5 linked regions of the Homo sapiens genome follow. The protein of the gene in region 4 purifies or fractionates together with the protein of the main gene of each other region. This does not show direct contact. Each region holds a gene or a part of one and is shown on either strand. Other genes may lie near its edges. The genes, in order: RNASEH1, GTPBP2, CRIM1, RNASE3 and RCN3.

Region 1 (6,738 bases), on a different chromosome or scaffold from region 4:
GGGGCACGAACATCACAGAACGCCTACTAGAAAGGAACAAGAAAATGTCCAGCCTAGTGGAGCTTCTCAACCCACACCTCTCGGAACCCTAAGGGCGCCGGGCAACACTTGACTGTGATCAGCACGACGTCAGCAACAGCTGGCGTTTCCACTGCCACATTTTGTTTTCACACACTCATCTCCAAAACGTTCCTCTAGGTACTCTACTGAAGTAAATGCAGATACTGTGGTCCAGGTTAAAGTGTCATTTTGTAGAACCTTAACACGGATATAAACACTGGTTTTACTTACTATAACAGAGATGGACACTTTACAGAACAGATAAGACTTGGAGGAAAAAAACACACTTGTCAGTTAAGTTTTACTTCACAAAATTGTGGTTTTTAAGTAAATTAACCTTAAATCAGCTTATATAAACCATAAGAACCAGTAAATAGCTCAATAATTCTAAAATAAGGATAAATGTAATGTTAAAAAACAAAAAACTGTAAAAGGGGCTAAGACTTTTTGATACAGATCTGAATCATTAAAGGCACTAAATCTCAATTTATAGACGTAAGTCACTGACTAGGAGGTCTCTAAAGTTTAAAGAAGTAGATTCAAAAGAACTAGCTTGCTTTAAGAGTCAGAGTACTTAATAAAAACAGAAACATACTTATATTGGAAGACTTGAGATACAAATAAATTACTGATTGGTTAAAAACAAAAAATTTGTGAAAAGGAAAACTGAAAAGGAAAATTAAGAAAAGGAAGTATCAGGAACCCAGCAAAGAAGGAAAAAGCCATATTTTCAAACCTGCTTTCTGTCTCAAACTGATTTTTCCATCTGGGTAGAAAAATGAACAGCTGTAACAGCGAGGAGGCGGCTCAGCATTACTGCCTCCATTCTCCCTTAACATCCCCATAGTGGTATCGTATAGGCCGAGTGAACTATGGGAAGAATTTATAGTTTAAAGCAAGGATGACAGTGGTCCGTTCCCAAAACTAACCCCCAAGGAGATAAAGAGGGAGTACACACAAATAACAATGTTATGTTGAAGACTTATAGGAGGAGCATCATGGCCTGACCAAGGACAGAGAAGTTTCACAATCCCCTTGGACCCTCGCTGCCATCCAGATGTCTGTGCTCATCGGTCTCCTCCTGATCTCACCTCCGCCTTTCTTTCCCCTTCCCTTAACATAAAAGAAGTCTCAAGTTCTATTAACTTAAGATGGTTCTTCAGGACACTAGTCCACCATCTTCTTGACTTGCTGGCTCTCGGAAAAAAGTCGCCTTCCTTGCCCCAACACCTTGTCTCTCAGCTTATTGGCTGTCATGCAGTAAGCAGTAAGAACTGTCACATCGATGAGCCTTTTTCACGTGTCCTCATTCTCAAACAGAATCTCCTTTAAAAGCTATTGAAGAGAGAGAGGGTGAAGCAGATGCACTGAGTGAGGGTCGACCCTGCTTTGCAAACTAACTCTTCAGGGATCCATTCTGGACACAACCTGCCTCGCTCTGAATTGTGCTTTGTCCAGGATTGTTACGATGATTCGAAGGAGCAGTTGTTCAGGTTCAAGCATCTCAGTGGCCTCTAGAGAGGCTGTTCAAGATAAGGTAATTAAAACTATGCTCTGCTCAGTCTTAATTTGCTATAGTAAAAAGTTTGTAAGTAACATTCACGTAAGATCACCTCCTCAGTGTAGATCCAGAAATATTTTTAAAATCTTGCGCTCTAAAGTCGTCACCCTGCTCATCTGAGTCTGCATAATGGGCTTTAAACTTCCAATTATATTGGGAATTAATCTTATATTGGGCTTTAAACTTTGAATAACCGTACTTTCTATAACACATAAAATTGGAAGAAATTGGACAGGCGTGGTGGCTCATGCCTGGAATCCTAACACTTTGGGAGGCCAAAGCAGGTGAATCATTTGAGGTCAGGTGTTTAAGACCAGCCTGGCCAATATGGTGAAATCCCATCTCTACTAAAAAAAATACAAAAATTAGCCGGGCGTGGTGGCACGCACCTGTAATCCCAGCTACTCCGGAAGCTGAAGCAGGAGAATCGCTTGAACGCAGGAGGCAGAGACTGCAGTGAGCCAAGATTGTGCCACTGCACTCCAGCCTGCGCAACAGAGACTCTGTCTCAAGGAAAAAAAAAAAGAAGAAATTCAGATTGTGTGACTCTGTTCTCAATAAAAAGGCAACACCACAAAGGGGCATGCCATGGAAAGAACCACACTCATTCCTGTAAACTGTAGCCCATCCAGTCCAATAACTATGTAAGTTTTTTTTTTTTTTTTTTGACGAGTCTTGCCCTGTCACCCAGGCTGGAGTGCAGTGGTGCAATCTCGGCTCACTGTAGCCTCCACTTCTCGGGCTCAAGCAATTCTCCCACCTCAGCCTCCCGAGTAGCTGGGATTACAGGTGTGCGCCACCATGCCCAGCTAATTTTTGTATTTTAGTAGAGATGGAGTTTCATCATGTTGGCCAGGCTGGACAAGTATTTTTTTAAAAAAAGACAAGGAATTATGGCATAAAAGGCTGAATGGAACAGGAGAGCTGAGTCCTGGCTTATCCCTAATACTGTAAGTAATATGAACCACTATTTGTAACTGCTTTCAGTCTGTTCCCTAATTTGTAAAATGAAAACAATCACACGAGGTTCCCTACATGCCTAGAGGGTAGCTATATAGATCAAATGCCATCTGGCATATGAAAGCCTTTGAATAGGTTAAAATGTCACACTGATATGAGAGGTGACTACCTTCTGAAACTTCCGGGCTTGCAGATTTCCTGACAAAGGCCCAGGCCTCATCCTCTGTGGCAAACTTCTTAAATCTGGCAGCAGGAAACCGGTCCACCTGTGCTCTGCACTCATTCCTGGAAAAGATGTGCAATGTTATTTCCTTCTTCCTTCTCTAACTTATCCCCTTTTTTATTGAGATTCTTAAGGTTGGAAATACAGTTGTCCCTTGGTATCTGAGGGAGACTGATTCCAGGAAGTCCTCCACCCCATCACAGATACCAACATCAGAGGATGCTTAAGTCCTTTGCATAAAATGGTGTATTTGCAAATAACCCACACACATCTTCTTGCATGCTTTAAATCATCTCTAGTTTATAATACCTAATACAATCTATATAGTTGTATTGTCTTTTTATGCGTATTTTAAAACTGTATTCTATTTTAATTTTTTCCAAATATTTTTGATCTATGGTTAGCTGAAACTGAGGATGCAAACTGGATATAGAGGACCAATTTTTGCGTGAAAAGGGCAGAGTCGCACCTTATAGTTTTATCCTGCACGTCAGACTCTACACCTGTGTTCTACTGTATGCCAGCCAGCCAGCACACCAGCACCATAAGGCTTTCGTCAAACTCAAAGCATAACAAAATACTGCGGTCTTTGAAAAAAATATTAACCATTTCTTTACAACAAAAAGGTCAACTTCTGAGATGCTTCTTCCTCAATACTGTAGCTGCCGTGCATGGGGAAACACAGGTAACGAACTTTGGTATCTTGTAGTGGGAAGAGTTCTGGTGGTACAGTCAGAACAGCTGGGCTCAAGTCCTTTCTCTGTCAGTTACATGCCCTGGGAACTTCCTGACCCCAAGAACTATACCTGAAAGTGAGAATAATCCCTCTCACCTCCAAGGGTTGTTACAAGGATCCAACTGCAAATACTGGCTTATTAGAATTTGCCTTTTTTAAAAGGGAAGATTAGGTACTGAGTTCCAATCCCAATTTAGCTGGTACGGAAAGTCTTCTGGTAACGGGGGTTCGTTCTGATTACGTGTCACTTTTTGTTGCACTTTAACTGCAACAAAGATGGAGGATTAAACACAGGGTTTATTAGGCCACCCCTAACCTTTACGCGACGTTTCTGATATTTCAAACAAGTCTTCGGTGCGTTCCAGTCCCAGGCCATGAGCCTCCTGGAACCCCGCCGGCCGAGCAGGAAAACGAGGCGGTCCCCCGACCACCCACAGCCACAGCGCGCGGCACAGACTCGGACCGCCAGGCTCCCGCCGCCGGGGTTAGCCGGGCTCCGGCCTCCCTCGACCCCGATGCCGGCAGGGAGGCGCCTCGGCGGGCGGGCCACTCACCAGGTCAGAAAGACCCCGGTCTTGCGGCCCCTCCTCACGGCATAGAACATCCCGAACCCGCGAGAGCCGCGGCGGCAGGGCAAGGCGGCCAAGGCGACTCTGTGGGCCAGGAACAGAAGCCAGCTCATCGCTCACTCCCGGCACCGGGAAGCATTTCGACTCCCGGCCCAGCGTGGGCGCGAGCCGCCGGCGCTCAACACCGCACTTCCGTCACCGGCGCGGGAAGATGACGCACGTCTGGGCGGAGTCCTGATGAGGGCCGGGGCCTAGGGAGGGGCGGTGTCGTAGGGCGGAGCCCGGAGCTCGGCCCCTGACGAGCCCGAACTCGTCAACTTCCTGTCGGTACTTGAAGAAGCGGAGCCAGGGCTGAGATCCCGAAGGCGGGCGAGGTCTGGGATGGGGCGGGGCCTATGGGAGCGGGGCTGAAGCCCTGGGCCCGGCAGAGGAAGGTCGAGATGGACCATGTTGGGCCCCTTCTCTCCCCGCCCCCAGGCCGCAGTTCGGGGGCCACGCCCCGGCGTGCTCGGGTCACCGCGGGAAGCCCTTGAACCCCCTGGCGCCCGGCACCCACGTGCGGTAACCGCGGCTCCTCGAGAGCTCCAGGGATGCGGATCTACAGTAAGGGCTGTGGCCAGATGAATGAATGCACATTTTTTAGTGGGCAGAAAGATGTTAGAATTCATGAATTAGAATAAGCACAAAGGAGGGCGAGAGGGGAGGCCGTGGAAGCCGCATTCCTCCCCTTGCCTTGGGCGCCCACCCCCGAAGGGGCGCGTCCCCTCCCTGCTCCACTGCACGTGGGTGTTTAACCAGGGGATATCCAGTGCCTCAAGCACCACGACCCGGGAGAAAACTGAGTTGAGAAGGTAACTTTTAGAATTCTCCCCATTTGACCTTTTGCTCTGTAAGCAAATCAAGTAATTTTAAAAGTGTTCATGGGTTGGAGGGGCGTGGTGGCTTACGCCTGTAATCTCAGCACTTTGGGAGGCCAAGGCGGGTGGATCACCAGGTCAGGAGATCGAGACCATCCTGGCCAATATGATGAAACCCTGTCTCTACTAAAAATACAAAAATTAGCCGGGCGTGGTCGCCTGCGCCTGTAATCCCAGCTACTCAGGAGGCTGAAGCAGGAGAGGCGCTCGAACTCGAGAGGTGGAGGTTGCATCTGGGCGACAGAGCGTGATTCCGTCTCAAAAAAAAAAAAAAAGTCTCCATTGGCAAACATTGTTATTCGAATTATTTTTAAACCACTTTTCTTTAATTTTCTTAAGGTCTTCTAACAAGCCTTTTGCACACCTGCCATGTATTTTGTCAGGCCTTGGGGATGAAGGTGAGAAATTCGAGAATCCCCGGAGATAACACATCAGCAAATAGTGCGCAGGCAGAACAAGCTGTTGGAGGTGAGAGACACAGAGCAGAGAAGCACCCGCACCTGGAGAGTCAGGAGGGCCTCACATCAGAACGCCTGAGCAAATACAGTTTTGAAGGATACTAATTTTTTAAAAAGTTCATTCACATGAGTTAGACAAAGAGAAAGAAGCAGGACATTCTAGGAAGAAGGAACGGCCCAGGCAAAAGCGACGCGTACATTGGCGTGGTAAGTTGTGTTCCTCTGTGAAATCGAAGAACATCTTTTTTTTTTTTTTTTTTTTTTTTTAAACAGAGTCTTGCTGTGTCGCCCAGGCTGGAGTGCAGTGGCACGATGCACGATTGGGGCTCACTGCAACCTCCACCTCCCGGGTTCAAGCATTTCTCCTGCCTCAGCCTCCCAAGTAGCTGGGATTACAGGCGCCCGCCATCACGCCTGGCTAATTTTTATGTATTTTTAGTAGAAACAGAGTTTCACCATGTTGGCCCGGCTGGTTGCGAACTCCTGACCTCAAGTGATCCGCCTGCCTCAGCCTCCCAAAGTGCTAGGATTACAGGCATTAGCCACTGTGCCTGGCCAAAGAACATCAATTTTAAACATTTCAGCTTTCCTAATTTTAATTTAAATTGGCCATAGCTTTCATTCCTCATTCCTACCTATTGCACTTCAAGACGGATTCTTATTTTAAAATAAAAAGACACACACAGCTGTCCCTAAAGTCCATTTATGACTGATCATCCTACCCTTGTGTAGATATCTGAGGAAGCCCAGAGATGCCCGGGAAGGCTCTCAGGATGACCTGACAGCTGCCCCCACCTCGTCAGCATATCTGAGGGTTGACCTACCAAGGGCTTGCTTTTCTGTGCCCACTGGCTGGTCCTGTATCACAAGGACTCATCTTCCCTGAGAAGTCCTAGGTTGGAATTACCTGAGGACGCTTGCAGGATCATCCACATGACTTTCCACAGTGCCAAAACCCTCTCTCTTCCTTCTTCCTTCCTTCCTTCCTTCCTTCCTTCCTTCCTTCCTTCCTTCCTTCTTCTTTCCTTCTTTCGTCTTTTCTTCCTTTGTTCTCTTTTCTTTCTCCTTTCTTTCTTTCTTTTCTTGTTTCTTTCTTTTCTTTCCTTTTCTTCTTTCTTTATTTTCTTTTCTTTTTTTTCCGGGTCCTACTCCAACGCCCAGGCTAGAGTGCAGTGGCATGATCTTGGCTCACTGCAACCTCTGCCTCCTGGGTTCAAGCGATTCTCCTGCCTCAGCCTCCCGAGTAGCTGGGAT
Region 2 (6,528 bases), on a different chromosome or scaffold from region 4:
TTATCAGACAAGTGCAGCAGGCTCTGGTTATCAAGAGGGCCCAGGGCTGGTCATGGTGAGAATGTTGGGAGAATGGTCTTATCTCTTCCTTCCAATTCTCATCCTTCTTGAGATCTCTCACTGAGTTCCCTAGTCTCTGTCTCTAAGCAGCAGTTTCCCTAGTAGGCCTGTGCCCCTGGCTAGCATTGACCTCTACGGCATAACCTTTCCTTCAGTGGCACAGGACTAAGAAAAGTCACATGTGCTTTCAACCACTGAAGACCCACATAATTGGCCTATGGTCAGCTAGGCCCTTTTGCAGATTTTGGTCTCTCTGCTCTCACTGCTTTGGGAAATTATGCTATGTGGACAGCATGATCAGTAAACCTGCCTCCCTCCTTGTGGCCCTGGGAGGAAGCCATGGACTCTACCAAGTCTGAACCCCTGAAGGGATCACCAGAGGTAAGTCATTATTGCTGCTTCTAGTTTTCCAAGGACAACTGAGGTCTGGAGAGAAGAGTTGCTTAATTTCTTTTTCTTTCTTTTTTTTTTTTTTTTTTTTTTTGAGACGAAGTCTCGTTCTGTCACCCAGGCTGGAGTGCAGTGGCATGATCTCAGTTCACTATAACCTCTACCTCCCGAGTTCAAGCGATTCTCCTGCCTCAGTCTCCCGAGCAGCTGGGACCACAGATGTGCACCATCATGCTGGGCTAATTTTTTTTTTTTTTTTTTAGTTGGAGTCTCGCTCTGTTGCCCAGGCTGGAGTGCAATGGCGTGATCTCGGGTCACTGCAACCTCCGCCTCCCGGGTTCAAGCGATTCTCCTGCCTCAGCCTCGCGAGCAGCCGGGATTACAGGCATGCGCCACCACGCCCAGCTAATTTTTGTATTTTTAGTAGAGACGGGGTTTCGCTGTGTTGGCCAGGCTGGTCTCGAACACCTGACTTCAGGTGATCCGCACACTCCTTGGCCTCCCAAAGTGCTGTGATTTACAGGCGTGAGGCACCGCACCCGGCTGAGTTGTTTAATTTCTTGACCGTGTATGAGCACCTCGCAGTTCGAGAAGAGGGGAGAAGTGGACACACTGTGAGTGGTCTGAGTCATGAGACAGCCATGCGGCTGTGAATTGAGCCCTAGCGTCCTGACTCGCAGCTCAGCAACATAACTGCTTTTCCACCCTGCCTTTCTGTGTTCTGTGCACTGGCTTATGTCGCTGAATGTATGTACTCTGTAGAGTGCAACAGCACTAAAGAGCTGGAGATTGCTTCACAAGAGAGTCAAAAGCCAAAAATCCCCTGTGGCCCTAGGCCAAGTTTCTATTCCCGGCCACTGCCCCGCCCTCGTGGTGGTTGGTGTAACCCGAGCCCTAGCCCCGCCCGAAGTAGGGGCCAGGCCCCTCCTACAGTCTTGGCCGTTTAAAACCAAACTCAGTTCTTCCCGATTGGTTCTGCTTCAAAACAAAGGGGAGGAGGAATACTCGCTTTGGGTATGCTTGCAGCCTTCGGGGAGGAAGCTGGTTTACGGGTTCGGGTCTCGTGTCGGGGCCACCGCGGTGCCTCCGGTTATTAAAACCAGCCCCTGGACGGTGCCAGCCTGGTAATAAAGCAGTGACTACTATGTAAAGGTAGCATAATCATCCCAACAATAACAGCCGTAATTTGGCTAATCACCATCCGCCTCCGCCCTGGCGTTCGCCCTGACTCACCCCAGCGGCACGCGGGCCATAGGGGAAGAAACTGAGGCAGAGGCGGAGCCAGCAGGCTGGCGGCACCAGTAGCCTCAGTTCTGCAGCTCTCGAGGTCCAAAACCTGTTGTCTAGGATCCGCGCTAAAGGGCCAAATCCCGGAGCGCCCACAAAGCTCGATTCTGATGTAAGCTCTTCTACGCTGGTGTCCTCGCGTCCCCACCCCAGGCCTCGAGGCTCTAAATTCCCCCCAAGTCCTAGAAAAAGAACATAGCGCGAGGACTGGAAGTCAGACTACAGCTCCCTTAAGCCTTTGCGCGCCAAGGCGCGCTCCTTCCCCACGCCTCCGACGACTCCCGCGGCCACTTGCGCCGCGATGCCTCCTGGGAGTTGTAGGGCGGCGACGTGTCATTTAAGTGAATTCCCAGGCCTGGGGACTCTATATCCCGTGGTGCCCCGCGGCTGTTTCTGACGCGACCCGGAGGCCAGGGAGGTGGGGGGCGTAGCTTGTGCAGAGCCCCACCCCACTCTGCTCAGGCCGGCCGGACACGGCAGTGGCAGTAAGGGCGGCGGCGACGGCGGCGGCGGTCGGGGGAGGGGCCGGGCGGGGGGCTGGCGGCAGCGGCGGATGGACTCGCGGGTATCGGAGCTGTTCGGCGGCTGCTGCCGGCCCGGAGGGGGCCCGGCCGTGGGCGGAACCCTCAAGGCTAGGGGGGCCGGCAGCAGCAGCGGCTGCGGGGGGCCAAAGGGAAAGAAGAAGAACGGAAGGAACAGAGGGGGCAAAGCCAACAACCCCCCGTATTTGCCCCCCGAGGTGAGCACCTGAGAAGTGGTAGGGCGGGAAGAAGCCACTCTTTCCGGCCCAGGACTCTAGGGAGGCGGGACCCAGATAATTAATCTCCCCTTCCGGTGTCGAGACCCCAGGGAGGAGGGGCACGGGAGGAGAACACCTCTTTCAGGTCCCGGGACCCCAGGGAGGAAGGGCAGAGACTGGACTCTCAGGTGACAGGACCTCAGGGAGGAAGAGTGGAGAGGGAGGACTCCCCCTTCTGATCTAGATTACCCCAGGAGAGAAGTAGAGAAAGGGGATCCCAGGAAGAGCACCCCGACCAACTGCGTGTGCCGCCATAGGGCAAGAGAGACTGCATCCTGGGACGAGAGGCAGACAGTAACCACCACTTCTTCTAAACTTGTTCCACAGGGAGAAGGGGAGTACCCGGGAAAAGAGCAATATGTTCCACACGGACACACACACAGTACTCGGGAAAAGAGCAGTATGTTCACTACACACACACACACACACACACACACACACACACAGCCTAAGCCAGTGGTTATCAAACTTTGGCATGTATCGAATCACCCGGATTGCTGGCCCCCAACGCCTGGCCAATTTTATTTTTTTATTATTTATTTATTTATTTTTTTTGAGACGGAGTCTCTGTTACCCAGGCTGGAGTGCTGTAGGGCTATCTCAGCTCACTGCAACCTCGGCCTCCCGGGTTCTCAAGCGATTCTTCTGCTGCAGCCTCCCGAGTAGCTGGCATTACAGGTGCCCGCCACCACGCCCAGATAATTTTTGTATTTTTAGTAGAGATGGGGTTTCACCATGTTGGCCAGGCTGGTCTCAAACTCCTGACCTCAGGTGATCCACCCGCCTCGGCCTCCCAAAGTGCTGGGATTGCAGGCGTGAGCCTCCGTGCCCAGCCTAGAATTTCTGATTCTTTCTTACTAGTGAGGATGGGCCTGAGAATTTGCATTTCTTATAAGTTCCCGTGTGATACTAATGCTGCTGGTCCCAGGACCTCACTTTGGGAACCATTGGTCTGGGCCCTAGACTGTCATTCTTGTACCACATTTTTTGAAGCCACCCATCCCCAGAAAAATGATTAAAAGGTTTTTATTGATGGGGAAAAAAAATAATCTCCTTAACACACCATGAAGTGGAGATTATGAGTGAAGACCTGTTAGGGCCTGGGAGCCAGACAGCCTTGAAGGGATGGAATGATAGGAAGGGAAGAGGAAAACTAAAATATCCAGAGAGGCGGGTAGAAAAATGCAGACTGGCCAAACAGGCAAATCCCATATCCCTTTGTACCTGGGAGGGGAAGCCTCAGGTAACAGGGTGCTTCTGTGCTGTGCTACCCACTGGAGCTAGAAGAGACTGTGGGGTGGATTCAGGATTTCACCTCCACTGAGGTTAGGGGGCAAGAGGTAAAGGCCATAGCGAGTCTGTCCGCTTCATTACATTTTCTGAGTTTTTCTGTTCCTCTCAGCCCCAGCTTTGGAGCTCTTCTCCTCTCTCACCTAGATCTTCTCGGTCATCAGGCTTGTAGTGACCATTGCTGAGCTCACCCTTTGGCTCTGATCCAGAACCTCTTGCAGCCTCTTACTCTAGATGACATCAGCTGAAAGGGGCAGGCAGGGAGGAAATGGTGTTTCCTAGACCAGTGACAAAGAAAGGTTTTAACAGCCTGGGCACAGAGGAGACATAGACTTCTGGGAAAAGCAGGTTTGAGGCCCTGGAGGTGGGGAGGAAGGGATGATCTTGCATCTAGGAAGAACGTGCTGCCAGTGATCAAAGAATGGATTGATTCAGTGTTCTGTTCCTGGCTTAAATGGGTGACTCCTTGTGTCCTTATAGGCCTTCCCTTCATAGAGGCTATGCTGGGGGTGAATAGAGGATCTTGTCTGCCACTGACCTTTGACAGGCACTTGCCTAACCAAGTGCCAGTGGGGCTTCCTGCTTTCTCAAGTTAGCTACCTGGACCCAGTGGGAATTGAGGGGAAGTAGGGATTGGGTCTGTACAGTGTATGGTAACTGCTCACTGTTTCTTTTCAGGCTGAAGATGGAAACATTGAATATAAAGTGAGTCCTAGGCTGGGGAAAAGCAGGGGCTGGGGTAGGTTGTCCTTGCCAGTGTGGGATAATTTCTTTTTTCTTTCTTTCTTTTTTTTTTTTGAGATGAAGTTTTGCTCTTGTTGCCTAGGCTGGAGTGCAGTGGCGCAATCTCAGATTCTCCTGCCTCAGCCTCCCAAGTAGCTGGGATTACAGGCATGCGCCACCATGCCTGGCTAATTTTGTATTTTTAGTAGAGATGAGGTTTCTCCATGTTGGTCAGGCTGGTCTCGAACTGCTGACCTCTGGTGATCCACCAGCATGGGATAAGTTCTCTGAGAGCCTTCCAACTTCATAATTATAGCAGTTTAAGGATATGGTTCAGGTTAAGGGCTCTGTACCTCGTTCTGTTGGAGGGGGATCAGGTATGAGTTTAAGTGGAAAGAGAAAGTCCTGGTCCTTGCAGCAGAACAGGTGGGGACCATGTAGGTTTGGGAGGAACACCTCTGATTTCACCTTATGATACCCCACTTGCCCTAAGTTGAAGCTGGTGAATCCATCCCAGTACCGCTTTGAGCACCTGGTGACACAAATGAAGTGGCGGCTCCAGGAGGGACGTGGTGAGGCCGTCTACCAGATTGGGGTAGAGGACAATGGGCTGCTGGTGGGGCTGGCTGAGGAGGAAATGCGAGCTTCGCTCAAGACCCTGCACCGGATGGCAGAGAAGTATGCTTCCCCTTCCCCACCAGTTCTCCTTTACCTGACTTGGGGGGACCCATGCATACCCAGTTACCTAGGGCCTGAGGGGCCAAGGTGGGACTTTCCTTCTCTTGACAAAGGGCTGAAGTGGGGAGGGTTAGTGTTTTGGTCCCCTCCTCACTGGACCTAGGCTGTTTTGCTCCTTGAATTAAGATATGTATATTTGTTTTAAAGGGAACTGTGAATGAGGAATAGATTGGAGGGTGGTAGGAAGTGCACTAAGGTATTGGGAGCTCTGTGGGAGGTGCAGGAAGTCTGTAGGTCCAGAGCGAGCCTGGAATAGGAGAAGGACAGGTGAGATATGGCAGCTGTGGCCTTGCTGTGACAGGGTTGGGGCAGACATAACCGTTCTTCGAGAGCGAGAAGTGGATTATGATAGCGACATGCCCCGGAAGATCACCGAGGTGCTAGTACGAAAGGTCCCTGACAACCAACAGGTGAGCACACACCCATCCCTGTCTCTCATGTCCACACTGTGGAAGGGCCCTGTGGTGGCAGGCTGTCTCCTGGCCTGGGATCCTGGGGGCTTCCAGTTCATCACTTGCTCCCTAGGGAGCGTCACTGCCCTTGACCCAGTCTTCAGTTAGAGGGGTGAGAGATTGGAGTTCTTATCTCTGGCAATTCATCCACAGTTCCTAGACCTCCGTGTGGCCGTCCTGGGGAATGTGGACTCTGGGAAGTCAACTCTGCTTGGAGTCCTGACCCAGGGAGAGCTGGACAATGGGCGGGGCCGGGCTCGGCTCAACCTTTTCCGCCACCTGCATGAGATTCAGTCTGGCCGAACCTCCAGCATCAGCTTCGAGATCCTGGGCTTTAACAGCAAGGGAGAGGTGCATGGGATCAATGGGACCCAATGGGGCCAGACTCTGAGGATGGGATGGTAGTAGTGAAGGACATAGGATGGGGGTAGAGTGTGGAGACTTTTTGAAATAGTATAGATGAATGCCCTGAGGGGACTGTGAACAAGCTCTGCCCCTCTTAGGAAATCAATGGGGAATCAACTAAATTAAATAAAAAATGGGGTCAAGATTAAGAGGCAGGGTCACCCAGGGAATGGTTTAGGTCCTGGCAACTCTGAAGGGGTTGGAAGGGCTGGCAGGAGGCACTGAGGGCCCTGGGCCCTGGGCCAGGTGGTGAATTACAGCGACTCACGGACAGCAGAAGAGATCTGTGAGAGCAGCTCCAAGATGATCACCTTCATCGACCTGGCAGGCCACCATAAGTACCTACACACCACCATCTTTGGCCTCACATCATACTGCCCCGAC
Region 3 (6,057 bases), on a different chromosome or scaffold from region 4:
ATATACACAAATACAGTCACAGTCTTGATTAAAACACAGAAATTTATTTGGTCTTTCATTTTGATGTGATAGGTAGTGGTAATAAGTTTTCTTAAAATCTGCCTGAAATATAGGAACTCAGTGGTTCTGAAAAGCACACAGTATACCCATTCTGTCTCCAACTGTTTAAAAATCCTTCTACTTTGACTTCCACAGACAAAACTGTCTAAAATCCATCCCTTTTCCTCACTCAGACTGTAAAAGCCCATACTTTTCAAAAAAAGCAAAGCTCCCAAATATGGGAAGTGAGAAAAGGTTTTCGAGATCTGCATTTGATAACATGATGGAATATTCTGTCTCTACAGACTTATAAACACACACACAGAAAGGTCCAAGCCTATGCATCCCACACTCCTCACACCATAAGGCCTGAAGTGGTCCAACTACTTCATAAAGTCTAGTTCAGGTCAAACATCCTCAAGGTAGCTTTGCCTTATTTTGGCAGGTCTTTCGCAGTCTTAAAAAGAAGTATCACAATTCTCCAACAAAAGATGCCTTTTGTTTAATCACAGCTGTGAAACGTTTTGCTGTGGCCTTTGGATAAGAAGCTAAATAAGTTACCTCTTGTAGACTGGGACTCTGCAGTCTCAGGTTTCATTCTGCCCTGCCAGAAATTCCTTTCTGTTTTGAATCTGAGATGTTTGTTTATGGTTTTTGTTTTGAAATGCTAAATAAGACAGGCATAGTTTCCAGTTACAGCCTATGGACCACCATCTACTCCCTCTCCTTTTTTTTTTAATCTTTCCATAGGCAAGGTAGCTGGTTGCTAAAATTTCCAAATAGCAAACTGTTCAAATTCTCTTCTCAGGAACTTGAAATACAAAATGGTAACACCCTACAATATAATTAACACTTATTTTTTTTTCTTAAATATTCAGAAGACAAATGTTCTCAGGATAGTCTGAATTAGGGTGTTATTTTGACATCTTTCTGATTTTGTTTGTAGGTTACATGTCCGAATACCAGCACTCTTGATAGAAGTGCTACAAATGAGAGGTACTAAAGTAGTTTCTGGAAGAAAATCCAATTTCTACTATGCGATAATACGGTTTGATCATCAGGAAGGAAAAAAAAAGTTGTAAACCACTGATTCCAAGGATTTTTCTCTTCATCAAGTTCTTTCTCCTTGTTCTACAATAGCCAATTTAAAGCATCTGCCTTATGAATTATCAGCCAATATTTACTGGATAAAAATGATACTTATTTTCAGGTACAAAGGAAAGAGTCACAGTTAAGCAAATGTAGTTCTGGGCTGGGCGCGGTGGCTCACGCCTGTAATCCCAGCACTTTGGGAGGCCAAGGTGGGCAGATCACGAGGTCGAGAGACCATCCTGGCCAACATGGTGAAACGTGGTCTCCACTAAAAATACACAAAGTAGTTGGGCGTGGTGGCACATGCCTGTAATCCCAGCTACTCAGGAGGCTGAGGCAGGAGAATCGCTTGAACCAGGGAGTCAGAGGTTGCAGTGAGCTGAGATCATGCCACTGCACTTCAGCCTGGCAACAGAGTGAGACTCTGTCTCAAAAAAAAAAAAAAAACACAAACATAGTTCATAGTTCTGTTCTCCTAAAATGGGACCATACCCACACTAAGAACTAAACAGCTAGTAACATTAGATATTTTGATTCTAGGTGTTCTTCCTACCCCGCACTATATCACAAAGACTCCCTAGAGACAGTGCAAACCCATGGCCAACCTCGACTATTAGTCCACATCAAAGATGGCTAGAATGACTGGGAGAGAGAAAAGCAACACAGATGGCCTCTGGCCCTCACACCCTCTCCTGCTCATTCCCAAGCCCGCAGTGGTCTCTGAATCGGCTAGGCTTGCCGCTGCTTCCTTCTGTAACCTCAGTGAGATATATCAACCTGGCCTGGCTATATCCTTGGGGTCTCCAACGTCTCCAGTGATGTCCAGAAATCCTCAAAAAGTTCTAACAATAAAAGGAAATTTAATTCACTGTCATAAAACCATATGCCATTAATATTAAAAGGCCATTTTTAAATAAATATTAATTTGAAATAGCTCTTTGGATGTAGGGGCTCAAACCACAAAATCAAGCAAGTGTTCACATTCTGCTGAAATGCCAAAGGCGCTGGGAACTGTAGTTGCACTGGATCAAACCAACGCATGTTTCCTTGGTGCATAGACCCTGTATTCCCAGCCCCCTGTTCTCGGTACTTCACGGTTCTTTTCTCTTTGACAAACATCTGACATTTGAATTCCCCCTCGAAACTCCCACCCCTTTGAAGAGATTTAGTTAAGTTTGGAGGAAATGTGTGCCCACAAGGTAAATTTTTAAACTTACAGAGAAAGCTAACAAAGAGGAAAATGGGAAAGGATAGAAAATAGAATGGAAATTAAAATTAATATTATTTTAAAAAATCTATTTGGTACCAGAAACTAGCATATACACATACATACTATACACACACACACACAATCTTATATATACATCTATGTAATCATATATATAAATCTCTAATCCTCACTACAATATTTACTTAATAGAAAGCTATTAATATTCCAGTTTCACAGATGAGGGAACTGAAGCTCAGAGAAACTAAACAAGCTGATCTCACGATTAAAAAAATAACAGATTTAAGATTTCAATGCAGGTTTGTCTAGCCCCAAGCCCTATTTTCTTTTTCCTAAAACATCCTGCACAAGAAGTGCAGGAAAAAAGGAGGGAGGAGAGGAGACCCTCAGGTCTTTCTTGTTGCTGCATCCTCCACTAAACTTTTCCTGGTGGTCAGATTTGGGTTAGACTCCCTCTTACTTGCTCCTGACATGCTTGGCATTTCCGTTATCTCATGGCTTACTGAACTGATTGTAATGAATTGTCTGCTTTTCCAGTTTACCATCAGATCATGGCCTGTGTGAAAACAAGGACCATATCTTATTTATTTTGGCTGAAAAATAATGACTATAATAGCAGGTAACATTTATCAGGTCTTTTAATATGCATACTCTGTGATACATGCTGTATACATAGGTACTAGCTTTGTGCTACTTAAAAGTGTGGTCCTGGCACCTGTGACACTGGCATCAGCCAGAAATTTGTTAGAAATGTAGAATCACAGGCATCACCCCAGACTAACTTAATCAGACTTGCAATTTTAAATACCTAGGTGATTTGTGTGCACACTAAAATTTCAGAAGCACAGTTTTATCTCACTTAACCCCCACAGCGAACCTAGGAGGTACCGACGACTAACAGAAAAACTGGCTTACACAAGTGATGTCACTACTGTAAAGCACAGAGACAAGACCCATAGGCGATGCTCATGAATATTTTCAGGCAGAAGAATGGCAGAAGAACAGGTAGAGCTAGAAAAAGAACAAGAGGAATGGATAATCCTCTGACTTCTGGTTTTGCCTAGTTTATACCAACTGCAGCAGCAGGTTGGAACCATAGCCCCCATGGCGTCGAGCTGTTTCTTTGCTCAAGCCAGGCCAAATCCTGCAGTGGTCATCAGTGTGCACACTCAGGAGCTAGGAGCAAAATTTCCTCCCAGAAGATAATGTGAAGCAAAGTGCACACTGCTGATTATAGCACATCTAGGTTCCCGCCTCCTCCCCAAATTAAGTATTTTTAATTATTTGTTCACAGATAAATGGTTACATTTATAATTCCTACAAATCAATGCAAAATAATATCAGACCTAAAACATTACTCAAAATATACAAACTTTGTAGAAATCATTTAGACAAGGTATAAAAAGATAGTCATGGGGGGGGGGGGCGGCGACGACTGCTGAATTCAGTAACAATTTGCTCCCTTTCTAAGAGCCCAACCTCCTTAACTGCTTACCATCAATGACTGAGGTAGATGGGGATTAAGAGAACAAGAGACTGAGCCCAAGTAAAATTGTTTCACTTATACTGGTTAGTAGCCTTGTTAGTAAGCATGTTCCATGTGCCAGTCATTCTTTTAACTGCTCATTAGGGATGCACTGAGTCCTTATAGCAACCCTATCATTAACCTGACTACACAGATGAGAAAACTGAGACACACAGAAGCAGAGTGCAGATTTGACCCCAGAAACCAAGTTCTTTTTTTTTTTTTTTTTTTGAGACAGGGTCTTGCTTTGTCGCCCAGGCTGGAGTGCAGTGGTGCGATTTCAGCTCACTGCAGCCTCTGCTTCCTGGGTTCAAGCAATTCTCCCACCTCAGCCTCCCTAGTAGCTGGGATTACAGGGGCCTGCCACCAAGCCTGGCTAATTTTTTTGTATTCTTAGTAGAGACAAGGTTTCACCATGTTGGCCAGACTAGTCTTGAACTCCTGACCTCAGGCGATCCATCTGCCTCAGCCCCACAAAGTGCTGGGATTACAGGCATGAGACACCACGGCCGGCCCCAAGTTCTTGAACATTACACTTTTCCACCAACATGTAGGTATTTTCATGTGGGGAATTAACTGGGACTGGAGGAGGGAGGTAAGGAATTGATACCTGTTCACTTTGCAACTAACAAAGGAAAATAGGTTCTTTAAAAACATTTACTTTTTTCATGTGGGCCCAAGATAAAACACGTAAGAGTTTAGTGTTTACCTTGAGGGTATTCTTACATAGAGGTATATTCAACCATTCCTCTGTCTTGACTTAGGAAGTCTTGACTAAACAGAGGTTTTCAAAGATGTGACCAGGCTACTGCCCAGGGCAAGCAGCAGGGTGGGTGAAGCTGAGAGGTGCTGATAAAGGGACACCTCCCAGTTTACTGCCCACGCTTATCCGCCTAGTGAAACAAGCTAGAACAAAGAGAAAATCACTCTCAAAAGGAAACTTGCCGTTTTGAAGCACAGCTACTAAAGCATTAAGAATGCAGCTTCATTCTTAGATGTTGAGAAACACTGAGACCAATTGCACAGGCTCTAAGGAGAATGGGTAGGATCACCTCCCCTGCCAAAAGAAAGGGCTACTACTCACACTTTTAAACCTAGTTCAAATTCAAATTCCCCTTTCTGCTTTGCCACCAGAGCCTCAAGAGATCACTTCAGATGCTTTAATTCCTACAACTAATTTTATCCATATATTTCACTAGCCAATTAATCATACACAGACTTGCAAAATCACTTCTACTTGGCTTGAATTTATATTATTATGTAGACTTTTTGCAAGTCTACATAATAGACTTTTTGCAGTCTTGCTGTCTTTATTTCTTATCTTGATTAAGTGTACAGAGCAAAGAATATGTTGGAGAGGTCCCCGGGCTCCCTAGTTTCCCCCTCACCCCAGCAGAAGGCCTTGTACAGCATAGAAGACCAATGAATGAATGACTGATTTCCATGCAAAGGCAAGTCAGATCTTTGAAAATGCAGCTTTGCAGAATTAGACCTCTGAGAAGGAAAGCTTTCAATGTGTTATTCATGCATGCTTGGCTAGTCTACTGTTTCTCCCTCAAATAATTAAATGAGCTTTACTGGGGTGTCTCCAAAATCCTGATACCAAACGTGCCATACGGAACACAGTGTTACAGGAACCCGCTTCACTAAATGTATTTCCCTTCCACTCATTTTACCACCTCCTACCCTCTTGTATTTACAGGCTAAAGCAACACTATCATCTCTGCTTGCACCATAGCCTGGGAGATGTTAAGCACACCCACATTTTTCAGGAATTTCACAATTAATGTCTGGAATGTGTTTTGGATTATTCTTCAAAGGATGATATACTTGTGCTAAGATGAATTCAATATTTTCCCTTCTCCCATTCGTCATTCTTTAGTCCACCCCCTCATTACCTCCTTAGGGTCATCTGTTTCATCTACAATATATCCCCCAACTTCATAATGCCCATCCCCTGCCTCACCCAGCTGTTCACTCATTCATCCCGGTCATTGCATCTTCAACAAACCACACAAAACAAAGAAACCTGTACCAAGTCACCAAATACCTCCTACAAATGGATGTAATGCCTACACAGATTAAGGACTGTTCAGTTTTCTTCATATATTAATCTGACTGCTTACAACCCTACTGCCAACCTCTTGCTTGGAGATTTTCCTGGTCAGTGTAC
Region 4 (5,171 bases):
AATGCAATTTTTATGGCTGGGAGCAGTGGCTCATACTTGTAATCCCATCACTTTGGAAGGCCGAGGTGGGCGCATTACCTGAGGTCAGGAGTTTGAGACCAGCCTGGCCAACATGGTGAAACCCCGTCTCTACTAAAAATACAAAAATTAGGCGGGCATTGTGTCGAGCGCCTGTAATCCCAGCTACTCAGGAGGCTGAGGCAGGAGAATCACTTGAACTTGGGAGGCGGAGGTGGAGGTTGCAGTGAGATCACGCCACTGCAGTCCAGCCTGGGTGACAAGAGCAAGACTCCGTCTCAAAAAAAAACAAAAAACAAAAAACTCCACAATTTTAAAGGATGAATATGGTTGCAAATTGGGCAGGTTATGGTCTGCTTAAGACACTTCAATAAGTCTGATATGTCATAAGCACAGATGTCTTCAGGAGCCAGGCAGGTGTCATCACTGAACAGATAGGATAAAAGTCAGGAGGGAGAGTGGAGTCAGAGAACAGCCCTGAGCTAGAGCCCCTTCCACAGACGCAGCTGTTACTCAGCTCTAATTGATACAACACCAATGGTGCACCAACCACCATCATGTGATTTTTAAAGATAAGACAGTAATGAAAACTTTTAGTGAACTATTCCAATGTCAAACTTTATCTTCCAAACCAAACATCATAAATAGCACTGTGTATGCTGAAAAGAAGCACTGTTTAGCCAAGTACCTGCCCTGGGGCTGCAGTCTATGTCTTTTGCCTCATACTATAGACACTTAAGTGCAAATGTTTCTAGCCAGTGTGGCTGTCAGCATCACAGAGGGGATACTCTACGTATCATTCACCTTTACATTCTCATCACCTACAAAAATGATCTCCACACAATATACATGAAAAAATAAACTTGCCTCATGATAAAGCTGCTAATGAATGTCGGCCAGAACAGGACTTCAAGGCAGAGCAATATTAGCTGCGCATTGAGTCCTCACCAGGTCACCATTGTGTCCACATTTACCTAAGGACCCCAGTGATAAAATTATTGCATTTCTAAATGACAGGAAAATTGGACGGTAGTAAAAATTAGGCAGATTAACTGTTGGAAGGTATATTATATCATTTAAGGGTCTACTTTCCATTTTCTAATCTCAAAGCTAGACCAGATTTAACATCTGTTAGTACCCAGGCCTTACCTTTGCAATTCACTTCTCACCTCTGTACAATTTCCCCACATCATCCCCTGTGCCCAGAATGCTCATCTCTTCTCTAAATCCCCTGAAAATCCCCTGCTTATCCTTTAGGACCTGCTGAAATAAACTTTTTTTTGAAGTTTTCCTTATTTCTCAAGCCAAGTGATTTCCTTCACCAGCAGTGTCCCTATGACACCATGTTCACACAAATGCTATTACCTCTATCACACTGTAATACAATTATATGTCTACAAGTACTTTCCTGTGTTTCTCTGAGGGCCAAGAATAAATGTATGCTTTGTGTATCAAACTGTACACTTGACCTCTATACTTTCAGGAATACAGTGCTCTGTCCTTAAATGTTCATTTGTAAATACAGAACCATATTCTTGTTAATATCACAAAATGAAACTTACCAGGAAGATGAATGACAACCCCAGAACACACTGTTTTGTAGAAAATACCATAGGCTGAAAAGATCACAGGAATACCGAGTGCTAGGTTGGAATCTTTCATGACACCAAATGTTCATTCATCCTCTGCCAGATTTTACAACTGTCCTCGGTGTGTTTTTAGGTTATGTAACTTTACACAAAGTGGAATCAATAATCAGGGCAAGACTTAAGAGAAAGTGGATCCAATGCAAGAGGAGTAAAGAAAAAAATTCCTCAATTGTATGGAGCAGATTGTTTTAATTATCTACAGAATCTTGTGCCCCAAGAAATTAATAGCTCAAGTTTCCAGCAAGAGTGGTGGATGAGATGGAGAGCATTTATGTGAGAGAGAACCAAGGATATTACTAAAAATGGAAGGGAAGCTGGGTTTCTCCTGGGCAAACAGCCCTCTGTGGCTCTATTTCTCCTAACTACTATGCCTGCCTTCGTGTCATTTAGTCATTTAGGGGCCTGCCAGAGGACAGTTATAAAATCTGTGGTCATTCTGCCGGCAGCGTATAGTTTTCACCCAGAGTCCAGATCCCACCGGCAAAACTCTGTCTAACACAGGATGACTTGGAATTAGAGTCCGTATAGCAGAAAGAGCAGCAGGGCTGTCCTTGGGTATCCGTTGCTCAGCCAAGTCATCAAATAAAAAGGATGATTGCACAAGTGGACCATGTGTCAATCTGTGGGTTTCTGCATGGCCAGACCCACCAAGGGAAGCTTTATTTAAACAGTTCCAAGTAGGGGAGACCAGCTGCCCCTGAACCCCAGAACAACCAGCTGGATCAGTTCTCACAGGAGCCACAGCTCAGAGACTGGGTAAGTCAACAATCCCCAGAGCTGGGACAGGAGGGGCAGCGACAGGGCAGCACCTGAGGGAGAGGTGAGCTGAAGTTAGTGCTTAGGAGATGTGGCACACTTTGGGGACAGGAAGAAAAGGAAATGCGACCCCAGAGTGGCAGCAGAGGGGCCTGTGGGTTGAGACACTATAGAGTGTGTCATAACCGAGACCGGATCGGGGAGTAGTTACTTCTCTTCTTTTCTTACAGGAAACATGGTTCCAAAACTGTTCACTTCCCAAATTTGTCTGCTTCTTCTGTTGGGGCTTATGGGTGTGGAGGGCTCACTCCATGCCAGACCCCCACAGTTTACGAGGGCTCAGTGGTTTGCCATCCAGCACATCAGTCTGAACCCCCCTCGATGCACCATTGCAATGCGGGCAATTAACAATTATCGATGGCGTTGCAAAAACCAAAATACTTTTCTTCGTACAACTTTTGCTAATGTAGTTAATGTTTGTGGTAACCAAAGTATACGCTGCCCTCATAACAGAACTCTCAACAATTGTCATCGGAGTAGATTCCGGGTGCCTTTACTCCACTGTGACCTCATAAATCCAGGTGCACAGAATATTTCAAACTGCACGTATGCAGACAGACCAGGAAGGAGGTTCTATGTAGTTGCATGTGACAACAGAGATCCACGGGATTCTCCACGGTATCCTGTGGTTCCAGTTCACCTGGATACCACCATCTAAGCTCCTGTATCAGCAGTCCTCATCATCACTCATCTGCCAAGCTCCTCAATCATAGCCAAGATCCCATCCCTCCATGTACTCTGGGTATCAGCAACTGTCCTCATCAGTCTCCATACCCCTTCAGCTTTCCTGAGCTGAAGTCCCTTGTGAACCCTGCAATAAACTGCTTTGCAAATTCATCTGGAAGTGTCTGTGTGTCTTCCTCGGCCGCTCTGCTGTCATTTAGTGACAATCTGCTCTAGAGATTTGGGTTTATCATGAATCTCTCCCCCTCAATATCTGACCAAATTCCTTAATTCCCCCATCATCCTTCATGTGATACCTGATTCCAGGCCTGCCTTAAAAAAAAATCCAATTGAGTCAACTTAGCATTGGTCTCCCTAGCCTTAATATCTCCTCTAAGCAATTTTCCATCCACTGACTCCTCCCCCAACACCAACCTATAACTTGTGTATAGATCTCCACTTGTTTTAGTTGTATTCCAGAATTGAGCCCAATTTGATATTGAGGTCCCATTTGATGCTTTATGGTCCGACTATGGTTTTTATTGACATGATTTCTATCCCAAGAAAAAAAGAGCTGCAGTGAATCAGCTGAAAATGCACGTGCTTCATTATGATTTATGAATGATAAATTTTGATAGAATTGAACGTTATGATAGAAAATAGAAAAGAAGAAAGTAGAAAAAGTCAAGAATGCTATAAATAAGGTGAAACCAAGATAAAGAAAAGTTTAGCCTCAGGGATATTTCTTTTAAATGGGCACATCAAGTCTCCAGCTATTAGCAATCGTAATAGAGGTGGAACCAGGGTTTGAGTCAAATGTGCAATAAGATAAATTGTTCCGACAGCAGTAAGGACAGATTGTAATGCTGACTGGAGGAGAGGTGGACATCTTTCCCAAAAGTTCCATGTCCTGGAGATGGGGAGCCGCTGGTCACGTGGGAAGGAGAAGGGGGAGGAGGAGGAGGAGGAAGTGGGAGCACTCATGAAGGTGAGTTGGCTCCTGCCCATTCTGCCCTCCATAGATGTTCCCAATGGCGAGTCAAAGGTTCATTCAACACCTGTCAGGAAGGGCACAGCCTCGAGAATTCAGGATTTGTAGACCCAGAGAGAGAAGAAATGGATGATGAGAGCCGCTGCCCTGGACTCCAACACAGGGCTTCACTCAGGAATCCATGAGAAACAGGGGAGAAAAAGGGGAAGCCCCTTCCTGCAAGTTGTGGACAGGTGCAGCATTCAAGTGATTGTTCCAGGAACAGAGTGGGTCTTTTTGAATGGCCCGACTCAGAATGCAAGAGAGGTACGATGCCATCAGATCTGCACCTTGGTCCTTCAGTCTGAGATTTCTGACTTCTATATTTCTCCTCCTCTTCCAGACCCTGAGAAACAGCAATTTCCATTCCTCAGATGACTCCATGTCAGTAATGGTGCTTTAATTGGCATCAGACAGCAGCTGTATTGAAGTCTCTCCTCTGGAGAAGCTATTGAGATCTTGCTTCTCCAAGGTCGGGCTGTGAACTTAAAAGTTTGCACAGAGACACTGAGTTTGGGAAATCTCAGTGCTCAACAGAATCCACTGACTCTAGGTAAAACAGGGCATGTCAGGAAGTGAGTGCAGTCTTCCCATAACCTCAGAGTAGCAGAAGGAGAAGGTGGGACTCTGAAAGCTGGAGCCACGTTTCCTGTGAAGAAAGATGGAGTGGACCTTCCTTGCTTCAGGTACCAGATCACAGGTCTCTTCTCAGTCGGGGATGCCTCATCTCTAAAACCACAGGATAGAGGGATCAGTCCCCACCTGCCCCCACACCCTCTCCACCTTGTGACTTCATCCTCTCTCGTCATTCATTCCTTCGTTCATTCATTCATCCAGCAGTCATCTACTGAGCAGATACCTTGCTCCAGGCACAGTTTGAGGGAGTGATGATGCAACACAAACCAAGACAGGTCCCTGCTCTTTTGAGGCCACATTATACAAGGATAAAAATAAACATACAAAATTGTTCTAAGCATACAAAATTTTGCTAAGTG
Region 5 (6,701 bases), on a different chromosome or scaffold from region 4:
TACTCGGGAGGCTGAGGCAGGAGAATGGCATGAACCCGGGAGGTGGAGCTTGCAGTGAGCCGAGATCACGCCACTGCACTCCAGACTGGGAGACAGAGCGAGACTGCGTCTCAAAATAATAATAATAATAACAATAATAAAGCACTTAGGACAATGCCTGGCATTGCCATTAGTGCTAAGCTAAATGTGCTAACCTGTCACTGCCCTTCTTCCTCCATTTCTCCTTCATGCATGCCCATCCAAGCACAATCTCCCAGCCAGCAGTCCTGGGGACCACTGCCACTGTCTCCACCCTGATCTGACCACCATCTTGTCTTGTCTTCCACCTGGACTATCGCAGTCGCTTCCTCACTGGGCTCCCTGCTTCTTGCTCCCTACAGTCTGTTCCCCACCTCGCAGCCAGCAGGATTCTCTCAAAACCTAAGTCAGCTCATGCCCTCCCTCAGTTCTACTCTCAATTGGAGAAAAGCCTAAATCTTCATCGTGGCCTAAAAGGCTTTGCATTGCATGATCTGACCCCCTTTGCATGGTCTCAGGCAATCCGCCCGCTTTGGACTCCCAAAGTGCTGGGATTGCAGGCGTGAGCCACTGCACCTGGCCCTCTCTCTTTTTGAGACAAAGTCTTGCTCTGTTGCTTAGGCTGGAGTGCAGCGGCATGATTTTGGCTCACTGCAGCCTTGACCTCCCAGGCCCAAGTGATCCTCCCTCCTCAGCCTCCCTAGTATCTGGGACTACAGGAGCACGCCACCATGCTGGGCTAATTTTTGTATTTGTTTTGTAGAGGCGGGGTATCACTATGTTGCCCAGGCTGGTCTTGAACTCCTGGGCTCAAGTGATCCCCCAGCCTTGGCCTCCCAAAGTGCTGGGATCACACACATGAACCACCATGCTGAACCCCTTTGCTCCTTCTCTGCCCTCACCTCCCACTCTCTCCCCTTTCTCACTGAGTTCCAGCCACACGGGCCTCAGAACTGTTGCTCTGACACTCCAAGCCCACTCCTGCCTCAGGGCCTTTGCACTTAACTGTTCTGTCTGCCTGGAATGCTATTCACTCCGATACCCACATGGCTCAAATACCACATACCACCTTCTCATGGAGGCCTTGTCCAAGTTCCCTGTTTAAAATTGCAGCTCCAGCCGGGTGCGGTGGCTCATGCCTATAATCCCAGCACTTCGGGAGGCCGAGGTGGGCAGATCACCTGAGGTCAGGAGGTCGATACCAGCCTGACCAACATGGAGAAACCCCATCTCTACTAAAAATACAAAATTAGCCGGGCATGGTGGTGCATGCCTGTAATCCCAGCTACTCGGAAGGCTGAGGCAGGAGAATCACTTGAACCCAGGAGGCGGAGGTTGTGGTGAGCCGAGATTGCGCCACTGCACTCCAGCCTGGGCAACAAGAGCAAAACTCCGTCTCAAAAAAAAAAAAAAAAGAAAAAAAAGAAAAATTACCTGGGCCTGGGCTGGGTGCTGTGGCTCACGCATTAATTCCAGCACTTTGGGAGGCCAAGGCGGGCGGATTGCCTGAGCTCAGGAGCTCGAGACCAGCCTGGGCAACACAGTGAAACCCCATCTCTACTAAAATACAAAAAAAAAAAAAAAAATTAGCTGGGCGTGTGGGCGTGCACCCATAGTCCCAGCTACTCGGAAGGCTGAGGCAGGAGAATTGCTTGAACCTGGGAGGCAGAGGTTGCATGAGCTGAGATCACGCCACTGCACTCTAGCCCGGGAGACAGAGTCTCACTCTGTCTCCAAAAAAAAAAAAGGAAAGAAAAAAAACTTTGCTGGATGTGGAGGCGTTCACTTGTAGCTAGGACTTGTAGCGTTCACTTGTAGCTAGGACTCTAGCTACTAGGGAGTACGAGGCAGAACAACTGGTTGAACCCGGGAGGCGGAGGTTCCACTGAGCCGAGATCACGTCACTGCACTCCAGCCTGGGTGACAGAGCGAGACTCCATCTCAAAAACAACAACAACAAAAATAAAAATAAAAAATAAAAATACAAAATTAGCTGGGCGTGGTGGCTAGCGCCTGTAATCCCAGCTACTTGGGAGGCTGAGACAGGACAATTGCTTGAGCCCAGGAGGTGGAGGTTGCAGTGAGCCGAGATCGCACCACTGCACTCCAGCCTGGGTGACAGAGCGAGACTCCATCTCAATAAGTAAATAAATAAATAAATAAATAAATAAAAATTGCAACTCCCCCCCACCAACAACCTCTCCCCTCCACACTTTCTGACTCTCTTGCTTTATCTTTCTTGGATGCATTTATCTCTATTTGATCCACTTTCTACTTATTGACTTCTTGCTGTTTCCCTCACCACAGTGTAAACTTCAGGAGGACAGATGTGTTAGCTGTTGTGACTTCAGCACCTAGAGCAGTGCCTGGCACATAGCAGGTGCTCGATAAACCTTTGCAGGCTCAATCAGTGTCAGGAGGATGCACAGAAGAAGGCGGCTGCTCCCATCGCGCCCCCCTGCGCTCAGGCCTGGACGGAGAGGGTGGACAGGGCTCCATTCCACCCAGCTCACCCTGAAACTCAGGGCTCTGCCACTCTCCTGCACTGGCCGGGCTCCTTAAAGGCCAAACCTCATTTTCCACACCAGTCCCTGCCATTTACAGAGCAGGAAACTGAGGCTTGGGGAGGGGAGATGTCTGGGACAAAAGAATAAGGAGCGCTTAGGGGGCAGAATCTAACCCAGATTTTGCTGCCCTCAAAGGTCCTCTTTTTTATTGTTGTTGTTGTTTTTTAGACGGAGTCTCACTTTGTCGCCCTGACTGGAGGGCAGTGGTGCAATTTTGGCTCACTGCAACCTCCACCTCCCAGGTTCAAGCGATTCTCCTGCCTCAGCCTCCCGAGTAGCTGGGATTACAGGTGCCCACCACCACGCCTGCCTAATTTTGTATTTTTAGTAGAGACGGGATTTCACCATGTTGGCCAGGCTGTTCTCGAACTCCTGACCTCAAGTGATCGGCCTGCCTTGGCCTCCCAAAGTGCTGGGATTACAGGCATGAGCCACCACGCCCGGTCTCAAAGGTCCTCTTTAGGCCTCAATTTTAACTTAATTTCTTTTTCCCAAGGATAGAAGGTAGAATTTCATTTCTCACAAAGAAATGAAGTTCAGTCCACGCCATTTCTCTGACCCCTGTCGATACCCCCGCGTCTCTCTCCTAAGCCCCACCTCTGGACACGCCCCAACCGAATGTCTCTCTTACCCCAGACGGGCCTGGCTTTCCTCTGGGGTGAGTTGGTCGAATTCCTTGGCCACTTCCCGTCCCAGGAAAGCCTCATGGTCGTACTGGAAGTTCCCGTGGGCGTCATCATGGGGAGCGTCGCTCAGGGGGGCCGCCTGGTGCACCCTCCCCTGGCCATGAGGGCCTGCGTCTGGGGATGGCTTCCCCTGGGCCCCGTGCCTCAGTAGCAACAGAAGCAGCAGAACTGATGGTCGCCACATCATCGGTCCCTGGGGAGTGGCAAAGGCCAGGGGTCAGGGGTCACAGGGATGGGGACAGACACGGGATAGGAGAATGGCGGGGTGGAGGGGTTACCTAGGACAGGACAGGGAGTTGGAAGTTGGCTGCAAGCTTTCGGGCTCAAAAAGGGCGGGCGATGGGGGAAAAGAGGGCGGGATGCTTAGAGGTAAAGCCACCTATGGGGAGGACCGAATCTTCTGACGGAGTCTCAGGGGGGTCCCAGACCTGCCAGGGGGAATTACAGAGACAGACGTGGCGCACATCCCACGCAAGGTGCAGGGCATAGTTGTGGCCAGCGAGAGGTCAGGCAGGCTCCCCGTCATTGCTCCCAGTCCGGACCCTGGTCCTCGACCCGAGCCGCCCTCCCTGGACAGAGGCCCCCCACCCACTCCCTTTACCCTGTTATCCAGCTTCGCTCCGCTCTCCACGCTCCGCTCTGCGTTCCCGCAAATGTGCCCAATTCGGCCGCTCTCCAGTCAGGCCCCGCCTCTGGCAGCGCAGAGCCCCGCCCCCCGCCCAATGAGCTCGCACGAGCGTCTCACGGGGCGGGGCCAATGAGTGCACGGGGTGCCGCGGGCACTCCTCGCCACGTCCACAAAGGAAACCGCGGCCTGCCCGGGGAAGAAGGGTGGGCGACACCGCAGTGACGCGGCCGGGGAGAACTACAACTCCTGGCAGTCGTCGCGGCACTCTGCCGTCCACCTCCAGCTGTTCTAGTCACAACGCCTCACGGGAAATGTATTTTTCCCTTTCCCTTTGTCAGGATGGTTTAAGAAAGAGGTGTACGTTCCAACACTTCTATACCAAACAAAACAAAACAAAACAAAAATAAACAAAAAGAACGAAAGAAAAGAAAAAAGGCCGGGCGCGGTGGCTCACGCCTGTAATCCCAGAACTTTGGGAGGCCGAGGCGGGCGGATCGCCTGAGGTCGGGAGTTCGAGACCAGCCTGATCAACACGGAGAAACCCCATCTCTACTAAACATACAAAATTAGCCGGGTGTGGTGGCGCATGTCTTTAATCCCAGCTACTTTGGGAGGCTGAGGCAGGAGAATTGCTTGAACCTGGGAGGCGGAGGTTGTGGTGAGCCGAGATCGCACCATTGCATTCCAGCCTGGGCAACAAGAGCGAAACTCCGTCTCAAAAAAAAAAAGAAAGAAAAGAAAAGAAAAGAAAAGGGAGAGCAGAATCAAGGGGCCGGAGGAAATATCCCATTTCCTCCAAGAGTGAACACTGCTCCTCGCTCCTCTTCGGCTCCAAGGATTCAGGTGGTCAGACAGTAGCCAAGAATTCCTCAAAATGCCTGGCATGGCAGTCATCCAGTAAATATTTGTAAAAGTTATGAATTAAAAATACATGACCTCAGGTTGAGCACAGTAGCTCAATGCCTGTAATCCCAGAACTTTGGGAAGCTGAGGCAGGTGGATCACCTGAGGTCAGGAGTTCCAGACCAGCCTGACCAACATGGTGAAACCCCGTCTCTACTAAATACAAAAAATTAGCCGGGTGTGGTGGTGCATGCCTGTAATCCCAGCTACTTGGGAGGCAGGAGAATTGCTTGAACCTGGGAGGCGGAGGTTGCAGTGAGCTGAGATCACGCAATTGTACTCCAGTCTGAGCAACAAGAGCAAAACTCTGTCTTAAAAAAAAAAAAAAAAAGTGACCTTAGGCCGGGCGCGGTGGCTCACACTTGTAATCCCACCCCTTTGGGAGGCAGAGGCGGGTGGATCATGAGGTCAGGAGATCGAGACCATCCTGGCTAACATGGTGAAACCCCGTCTGTACTAAAAATACAAAAAATTAGCCAGGCATGGTGGCAGGCGCCTGTAGTCCCAGCTACTCGGGAGCCTGAGGCAGGAGAATGGCGTGAACCCAGGGAGGCGGAGCTTACAGTGAGCCGAGATCGCGCCACAGGACTCCGGACTGAGCAACAGAGCAAGACTCCGTCTAAAAAAAAAGAAAAAAGAAAAAGAAAAAGAAAATACATGACCTGATGTATAAAACTGGCAGGTTCCCCTGTGGCAGCATGTTACCTGTAGGAGAGATCCGAGGCCCAGCCGCCATTCAGTCCCCCGACTTATTCCCTTACCTCCCCTGCCTGAAAAATGATGAGAACACACTGATTCGGGCCCAAACTCGTGTTATATTATCGAGGTGGAAAACAGCCATATGTATTAGGAGGGGAAACTGAGGCAGACCACAGGACGGGGCTCCAGAGGGAGGACAACTAGGCCCAGAACCCCTTCTGGAGGCTCAGAGATGCCAGTGTTCCAGGAGGTCTCACAGCATGAAAGGGGCCTGACTACATTCGCTTTTAGCAGTCGGAATGGCGGATGGTCAGGCGGTGGCTGGAATCACATTTACATCCTTCAAATCAGCATCCTGGGCCTCCCCTGGGGTGGGCAGGAGGACCCCGGTGTCGTCTCCACGAAGGGAGATCCAAGGGGCTGAGGAGAGAGAGAGAGGGAGAGGTCATCAGAATCTCTGAGGCGCTCTGGGTCTGACTGGCGTCCCCCATTTGTGTGTGTGTCTCACACACTCTTCCTCAGTCTCTATCCCCTTCCTTCTGGGCCTTTGTCTCCCCTTCTCCCAATTTTCCGTCCCCCCTCTTTCTACATCTTTGCCTCCCTCCTCTGGGTCTGTCTCCCCCTCCCTCTGTCCGCACCTCTCTCTGTCCCCTCTGGGTCTCTGTTCCCCCGTCTCTGGGTCTCTGTCTCCGTCCCCCTCTCTCTGCACCTCTGTTCTCCCATCTCTGGGTTTCTGTCTCCACCTCTCTCTGATCTCTGTCCCCCCTCTCTGGGTCTCTGTCCTCCCAGGTCTGTGTGCCCCTCTCTTGGGGTCTCTGTCCCTCTCTCAGAGGCTCTTCCTCCCGCTGCCCCCCACCTGGCAGCCCACTCCTCATCCTTCTCCACAACAGAGCTCCTCCTACAGCCGCTGCCGTGAGTAGCAAGACACCGATGACGATTCCCACCACGAGCACGGAGGACTTGGCTGGAGATTCTGCAGCCAGAGAACGCTGTGAGATGTGGAGCAGCCCCTCCACCCCACCCAGTCAGGACACAGAACTGGGGCGCTCCCAGTCCCTCCCAGCCTCGGAGATTCCAGCACCAAGTGTCTGATGGGCAGAGGCGAGGCCAGGCAGGCGATCTGGGCAGACTGCCCCCAGGTTGGACGTAAGAACCAGCTACAGCACGAGCGGCCGCGGTCACACCGGCAATGGATCAGCA

Evidence for each region.
Region 1: the proteins of RNASE3 (region 4) and RNASEH1 purify together in Homo sapiens (co-immunoprecipitation; one large-scale study listed by IntAct). This does not show direct contact.
Region 2: the proteins of RNASE3 (region 4) and GTPBP2 purify together in Homo sapiens (affinity purification with mass spectrometry; 2 studies listed by BioGRID and IntAct, with this or other methods). This does not show direct contact.
Region 3: the proteins of RNASE3 (region 4) and CRIM1 purify together in Homo sapiens (co-immunoprecipitation; one large-scale study listed by IntAct). This does not show direct contact.
Region 5: the proteins of RNASE3 (region 4) and RCN3 purify together in Homo sapiens (co-immunoprecipitation; one large-scale study listed by IntAct). This does not show direct contact.

The regions. Positions count from the first base shown.
Region 1 is NC_000002.12:3,554,039-3,560,776, forward strand, and holds the start of RNASEH1 (ribonuclease H1 isoform 1 precursor), read right to left. Parts: upstream 4,296-6,738; 5' UTR 4,223-4,295; coding exon 4,095-4,222; exon of another isoform or gene 3,857-4,094; intron 3,806-3,856; exon of another isoform or gene 3,637-3,805; intron 2,867-3,636; coding exon 2,751-2,866; intron 1-2,750. UniProt on the Homo sapiens protein: Endonuclease that specifically degrades the RNA of RNA-DNA hybrids.
Region 2 is NC_000006.12:43,624,925-43,631,452, reverse strand, and holds the start of GTPBP2 (GTP-binding protein 2), read left to right. Parts: upstream 1-2,188; 5' UTR 2,189-2,290; coding exon 2,291-2,476; intron 2,477-2,536; exon of another isoform or gene 2,537-2,664; intron 2,665-2,863; exon of another isoform or gene 2,864-2,894; coding exon of another isoform or gene 2,895-2,936; intron 2,937-4,111; exon of another isoform or gene 4,112-4,174; intron 4,175-4,504; coding exon 4,505-4,531; intron 4,532-5,042; coding exon 5,043-5,227; intron 5,228-5,588; coding exon 5,589-5,697; intron 5,698-5,892; coding exon 5,893-6,090; intron 6,091-6,390; coding exon 6,391-6,528. Other genes in the region: MAD2L1BP (MAD2L1-binding protein), read right to left, coding at 1,684-1,703.
Region 3 is NC_000002.12:36,361,258-36,367,314, reverse strand, and holds part of CRIM1 (cysteine-rich motor neuron 1 protein precursor), read right to left. Parts: intron 1-6,057. UniProt on the Homo sapiens protein: May play a role in CNS development by interacting with growth factors implicated in motor neuron differentiation and survival. May play a role in capillary formation and maintenance during angiogenesis.
Region 4 is NC_000014.9:20,889,029-20,894,199, forward strand, and holds RNASE3 (eosinophil cationic protein precursor), read left to right. Parts: upstream 1-2,356; 5' UTR 2,357-2,423; intron 2,424-2,653; 5' UTR 2,654-2,658; coding exon 2,659-3,141; 3' UTR 3,142-3,320; downstream 3,321-5,171.
Region 5 is NC_000019.10:49,525,230-49,531,930, reverse strand, and holds the start of RCN3 (reticulocalbin-3 precursor), read right to left. Parts: upstream 3,929-6,701; 5' UTR 3,873-3,928; exon of another isoform or gene 3,550-3,872; intron 3,465-3,549; 5' UTR 3,459-3,464; coding exon 3,217-3,458; intron 1-3,216. Other genes in the region: FCGRT (IgG receptor FcRn large subunit p51 isoform 1 precursor), read right to left, coding at 5,812-5,921, 6,358-6,474. UniProt on the Homo sapiens protein: Probable molecular chaperone assisting protein biosynthesis and transport in the endoplasmic reticulum.